Regions from separate parts of the Homo sapiens genome. Here region 2 is linked to region 1. Evidence: fine-mapped expression QTL. A gene starts in region 1. The other region holds a variant in brackets. All regions are shown on one strand. Distances are from middle to middle.

Region 1 (2,914 bases):
AGTGGAAGCGGTTGGGGGTGGAGAGTCAGCTTTGCTTTTTTGGAGAATGAGGGTGTGATCGAACACATAGAAAGAGAAAGAGAGAAGTAGGCAGGGGCTGGATGTAGCTCAGAGATAGGTTATGGAAAGCAGTTTGGATTTTAGATTTTAAGAGGAAGGGGAAATAACTGAATTTGGCTCTTATTTTTAATTTTTTTCCATTAAAAAAATACATTATAGAAAAAATATATAGAGACGGGATCATGCTGTGTTGACCAGGCTGGTCTCCAACTCCTGGCCTCAAGCGATCCTCCCATCTCGGCCCCCCAAAGTGCTGGGATTACCGGTTTGAGCCACGCGCCTGGCCTCAATTTGTCTTTTAAAGGATGATTTTGACTACAAGAGAACTACTTGGATCAGGGTTGGGGGTGGGAGATGAGGAGGTGTGATTTCAGAGGCCAAGTACAGAATGAGTGAACAACTGGGAGAGACACATCGGCTGAGATTAGAGAGATGGTCCGGTAGACAAAAGTGTAAGCATGAGACCCGAGGTAGGACAAGCAGAACTTGCAGATCTATTACAGATGTAGGGGTGAGGAGTGCCAGGGTGACTCTTGAGTGTCTGGCTTGAGCAGCTAGGCAAATGGTGTGGATCAAAAAAGCAGCAGGTTGCAGGGAGGACGGCAGTGTTAATCGAAAGTCATGTTCTGTAAGTTTTAGGTTCGATACGACTCTGAGCGGAGATGTCAATTAGTCAACCGAATGTCAGGTGTGAAGATCGGCACAGAGGGCAGAACCAGAGACATTCATTAGAGAGCAAACAGGTAGAGGGCACTTAACCTATAGGAAGGATGCACTCATATAGAGCGAGAAAAGGGCCAGAAGGAGCCCTAATGAGTAGAGAAAGACAGGCTGAAAAGGACATCGGCGAGGTCAGAGAAATACCTTTAGGGTGTAATTACGCCTACGCGAGTGGGTAAAATGAGGGCATAATGACGCGGACTGGATTGCAATAAACAGCTTTTATTCTTTTATCAGAGACACGATCTAGCTTTTTAGCCCAGGCCGGAGTGCGGTGGCATCCTCACAGCTCGCTGCAGCTTCACTGGGCTCAGGCGATCCTCTCGAGTAGCTGGGGTACAGGCGCAGGCCACCGTGACAGGCTTTTTTTTTTTTTTTTTTTTTTTTTTTTTGAAGAGAGGGTCTCACTATGTTACCCAGGCTAGTCTCGCAGTCTGGCACTCCTGGCCTCAAGCGATCCTCCTGCCTCGGCCTCTCGGCCTCCCAAAGTGCTGGCCTGTGCCCAGTCAATGGCTGTTCCAAATTAGGGTCTACCCATCTCTATGCAGGGCTAAAGTCCGCGGGCGGCCCCGCACCGCTACCAAAAGTACAGTCCTGTGCGCCCAGACGCGACGCAAACAAGAGTCGCAAGCTTCCGGGTCCCCGCCCCACCCCGGCTCCGCCCCTCCCCCAACCCTGCCAGGCTCTCCAATCGCATGTGGAATTATCGCTCTACCCAGGCGGTGGTGTCGATCTACGTTCCAATTGGGGCCGTACCATGGCGGAGAAGACTCAAAAGAGGTGGGTTTGCTGCTTGAGAAAAGCCTTTTCTCAGCTTTCCGTAGGGGTGGAACCTGTTCCTGGTCGCCAATGGTGGCGACTCAGAAGGTGTCTCATCCTGGGCATTCGGGCCGAAGGTACCTGAAGCCCAGACCTGGCGTCCACTGAGGGAGGGGGCGACGGAGTGGGGGCGGGGAGGGTTGAGAAGGGACGCGGAGTCGCTGCCTGGAAGGTTTTTGTTCCTGTCTGGCCGTCCCTCCCCACATGCGCCTGCGCAGAGGGGGTCTCCCGGCCGGGAGGGCGGGGGGGGCTGTGAGGGGAGGGTGACGTCAGCTTTTTCCTGGGGAAGGCCGGCTCCCTTCTCCCGCATAATCGGCGGTGCTTGGCGCCGCTGTACCCCACGGCTTGGCGCTGGATTCTCTGCTGCATGTTGCGAGACCCCCACGCCAGTGCTGGCCGCACCCCAGGCCCTTCCTGTCTCTGGAGGGTGGGGTGTGTAAAGGGATTTACGGTCGCTGTCAAAAGGGGGGCCGCGCCTGGACTTGAACTGTGACACACACACACACACATTATATAGATGCAAGGAGTACTTGCGCAGATTTGTTGCATAGATAAATTGCGTAATGGTGAAGTTGGCTTCTAGTGTACTTACCACCCAAATAGTGAACATTGTATCAGATGGGTAATTTTTCAGCCCTCAAACCCCTCCTACCCTCGCTGCTTTTAGAGTCCCCAGTGTCTGTTATTTCCCTCTTTATGTTTATGTGTACTCATTTTAGCTCCCACTTAAAAGTGAGAACATGTGCATTTGATTTTATTTCTGAGTTATCGCGTAAGGTAATGGCCTCCAGTTCCATCCATGTTGTTGCAAAAGACATGTTTCCTTTCTTTTTGATGGCTCTGTAGTATTCCATCGTATAGATACACCACATTTCCTTTATCCAGTCATCCGTTGATGAACACTTAGGTTGATTCCATACTTTGCTATTGTGAATAGTACAGTGATAGTCATAGGAGTGCAGTTGTCTTTTTAATACAATGGTTTCCTTTGAGTAGATCCTGGGTCGAATGGTAGTTCCGTTTGGATTGGTAGCTCTATATGGATTGCTGGGTCCAATGGTACTTGTGTTTAGTCCTTTGAGAAATCACCATACTATTTTCAATAGATGAACTAATTTATATTCCCACCAATAGTGTATAAGCTTAGAACTGTGACATTTTTTGCCAGGCGTGGAGTGGACAAGCTCCTTTGTAAACATGTGGGGACAGGAAGTTTGGCTTCTTCTCCGGTAGTCTTCATTGCTGGGGGCTGTTGGTGGCTGTTGGTGGCTGGGATGAGACAAGTGCATAAGTAAAGCCATTTCGAACAGCAGCA
Region 2 (2,914 bases), 220 kb after region 1:
ATGCTCAAATGAACGTGGAAGTAAGATATGTCATTGACATACTGACTTCATGTCCTTCGGATATATGCTCAGTAGCAAGCCTGCTAGATCAGTACTATTGTTAATTTTTTGAGGAAGCTCCACACTGTTTGCCATAACATCCAGTCATTAGTTTTAAACCTTTACAGTCTGTGAATGTCCAATTAATATTTACAATGGTTACTCAAGAAAGGCACACATTTTAAAGTGGTTCACTTAGGGTGAAAATTACAGTAATGCTTATGATTACTGGAAGCCTAAATTTACACACACACACACACACACACACACACCTAATTTTCCAACTTTTCAGCCATTGATGTTTACCTCATTAGTCATGTTTCTTGTCTTTAAAATTTTTATATATTTATAGTTAAGCTGCTTTAATAAAACTTTACTCATATGAAGAGAAATAAACTTCTAATAAAAATGACAATAGGGGGGCCAGACCTGGTGGCTCATGCCTGTAATCCCAGCACTTTGGGAGGCCAAGGCAGGCGGATCACCTGAGGTCAGGGGTTCGAGACCAGCCTGGCCAACATGGTAAAGCCCCATCCCTACTAAAAATACAAAAATTTGCCTGGTGTGGTGGCACATGCCTGTAATCCCAGCTATTAGGGTAGCTGAGGCAGGTGAATCGCTTGAACCTGGGAGGCAGAGGTTGCAGTGAGCCAAGATCATGCCACTGCACTCCAGCCTGGGCAACAGAGTGAGACTTTGTCTCAAAAAAAAAAAAAAAAAAGAAGAAGAAGATATATCTGTTTTTCTTTTTCCATTTAGATATTCCCAAAAAGAGAAGAGACAAATTTAAAATGTTAATTTCGACTGGGTGCGCTAGCTCATGCCTGTGATTCCAGGACTTTATGAGGCCAAGGTGGGTGGATCACTTGAGGTCAGGAGTTTGAGACCAGCCTGACCGACATAGAGAAACCTGTCTCTACAAAAAATACAAAACTACAAAAAATACAAAAGTTAGCCCGGCGCATTGGCACACGCCTGTAATCCCAGCTACTCTGGAGGCTTAGGCATGAGAATTACTTGAGCCCAGGAGGCGGAGGTTGCAGAGAGCTGAGATCGTGCCACTGCACTCCAGCCTGGGTGACAGAGTGAGACTCTGTCTCAAACGAACAAACAAACAAATGAAAACAAGTAAATTTCACAATAAAATGTGAAAAAAAAAGAGGAATCTAGGAATGTATTGCTTTCCTTTCGATAATCCTCTTGGTTACAGCCCCATTTTCACTCTCACTTCTGAGGTGCCAGCTACTGCCAAGGCTTGCGTCTTTTGGGAATTCTGTAGCTTCTCAATTTTTTGCCACCACCAAGCTTAGGATTTAGTTTTCTTTCCTTTGTTTTTTTTTTTTTGAGACGGAGTCTTGCCCTGTCACCCAGGCTGGAGTGCAGTGGTGCGATCTTGGCTCAGTGCAAGCTCCGCCTCCTGTGTTCACACCATTCTCCTGCCTCAGCCTCCCAAGTAGCTGGGACTACAGGCGCCCGCCACTACGCCCAGCTAATTTTTTGTATTTTTAGTAGAGATGGGGTTTCACCATGTTAGTCCGGATGGTCTTGATCTCCTGACCTCGTGATCTGCCCATCTCAGCCTCCCAAAGTGCTGGGATTACAGGCGTGAGCCACCGCGCCCGGCTGGATTTAGTTTTCTTAATATTAATCTGCTTCACAGTTTCCCAAATTTTACTACTATTGTTTTCTTTCATTCTCTCT[CT/C]TTTTTTTTTCTTTCTTTTTTTAAGAGATGCAGTCTCGCTGTGTCACTCAGGCTGGAGTACAGTGGTGCGATGATCATAGCTCACAGCAGCCTCAAACTCCTAGGCTCAAGTAATCCTCTTGCTGCAGCTTCTGAAACAGCTGGGACTACAGGCATGTGTCACCATACCCAGCTAATTTTTTTTCTTTTTGTAGAGATGAGTATCTTGCTGTATTGCCCAGACTGGTCTCAAACTCCTGGCCTCAAGTGATCTTTGTGCTTTGGCCTCCCAAAGTGCTAGGATTAGAGGTATAAGCCACAGGCCTAGCTTTCTTTCATTCTCTTTATCCTTGTTAGTTTATGCTTTAAAATAATGTTGATGACAACACATCTTTTCTGAATTGTTATTAGAGGTTTAGGGAGAGGGACGGAAATGCTTATGTTTAACCTGGCATCTTTAAACAATAAAATGTGACAGTCCATGTAGAGGTTATAGCACGGCCTCCTGTTCAGTGCCATTGTCCCTCCAAATTCATGTTTTTCTCACATGCAAAATACATTCTTTCCATCTCAACTGCCCCCAAAGTCTTAATTCATTTTAGCATCAACTCTGAAGTCTCATCTGATATCATCTAGAGTATATATGGTAGAGACTCGAGGTACAATTCATCTTGAGGCAAAATTCCTCTCCAGCTGTGAATCTGTGAAACCAGATAAGTTATGTGTTTCCAAAATACAATGGTGGGACAGGCATAGGATATACATTCCCATTCCAAAAGGAAGAAACTGGAAGAAAGAAAGGGGCGATGGGTCCCAAGTAAGTCCAAAACCTAACAGAGCAAATACCATGAGATTTTAAGGCTCAAAAATAATACTTGGCCTGGTGTGGTGCCTCATGCCTGTAATCCTGATACTTTGGGAAGCTGAGGCAGGAAGATCCCTTGAGGCCAGGAGTCTGAGCCCAGCCAGGGCAACATAGTGAGACCCCCATCTCTAAAAATAATTTTAAAATTAGCCATGTGTGGACGTGCATACCTGGAGTCACTGCTACTTGGGGGGCTGAGGCAGAGGAGTCACTTGGGGCCAAGAGTTCGATGCTACAGTGGACTATGATCATGCCACTGCACTCCAGCCTGGGCAACAGAGTAAGACCTTGTCTCCTAAAAAAAAAAGAGTAATTGTCTTTGGTTCGAT

Which allele goes with the higher level. Alleles are on the strand shown, and positions count from the first base shown. SD is a standard deviation of normalised expression in the study named.
As copies of CT replace C in region 2, the expression in prefrontal cortex of the gene that starts at base 1,523 in region 1 goes down (large effect, 0.82 SD a copy in ROSMAP).

The links.
Region 2: its variant is fine-mapped to the expression of DCTN6 in prefrontal cortex (ROSMAP, PIP 0.95).

Annotation. Positions count from the first base shown.
Region 1 is chr8:30,154,847-30,157,760 of GRCh38, forward strand. DCTN6 (dynactin subunit 6) reads left to right here and starts at 1,523. Exons shown (of 7, transcript NM_006571.4): 1 at 1,523-1,560. The coding sequence starts at 1,538. DCTN6-DT (DCTN6 divergent transcript) reads right to left here and starts at 1,814. Exons shown (of 1, transcript NR_186490.1): 1 at 983-1,814. LOC124901927 (a long non-coding RNA gene) reads right to left here. Exons shown (of 2, transcript XR_007060880.1): 2 at 2,326-2,914. RefSeq lists enhancers at 614-823, 648-1,630, 1,574-1,723 and a silencer at 1,784-1,893.
Region 2 is chr8:30,370,643-30,373,556 of GRCh38, forward strand. No RefSeq gene overlaps it. Among named protein-coding and RNA genes, the nearest start is that of RBPMS, 12 kb to the right of the region's middle. The variant CT/C (reference allele first, on the strand shown) is at 1,741.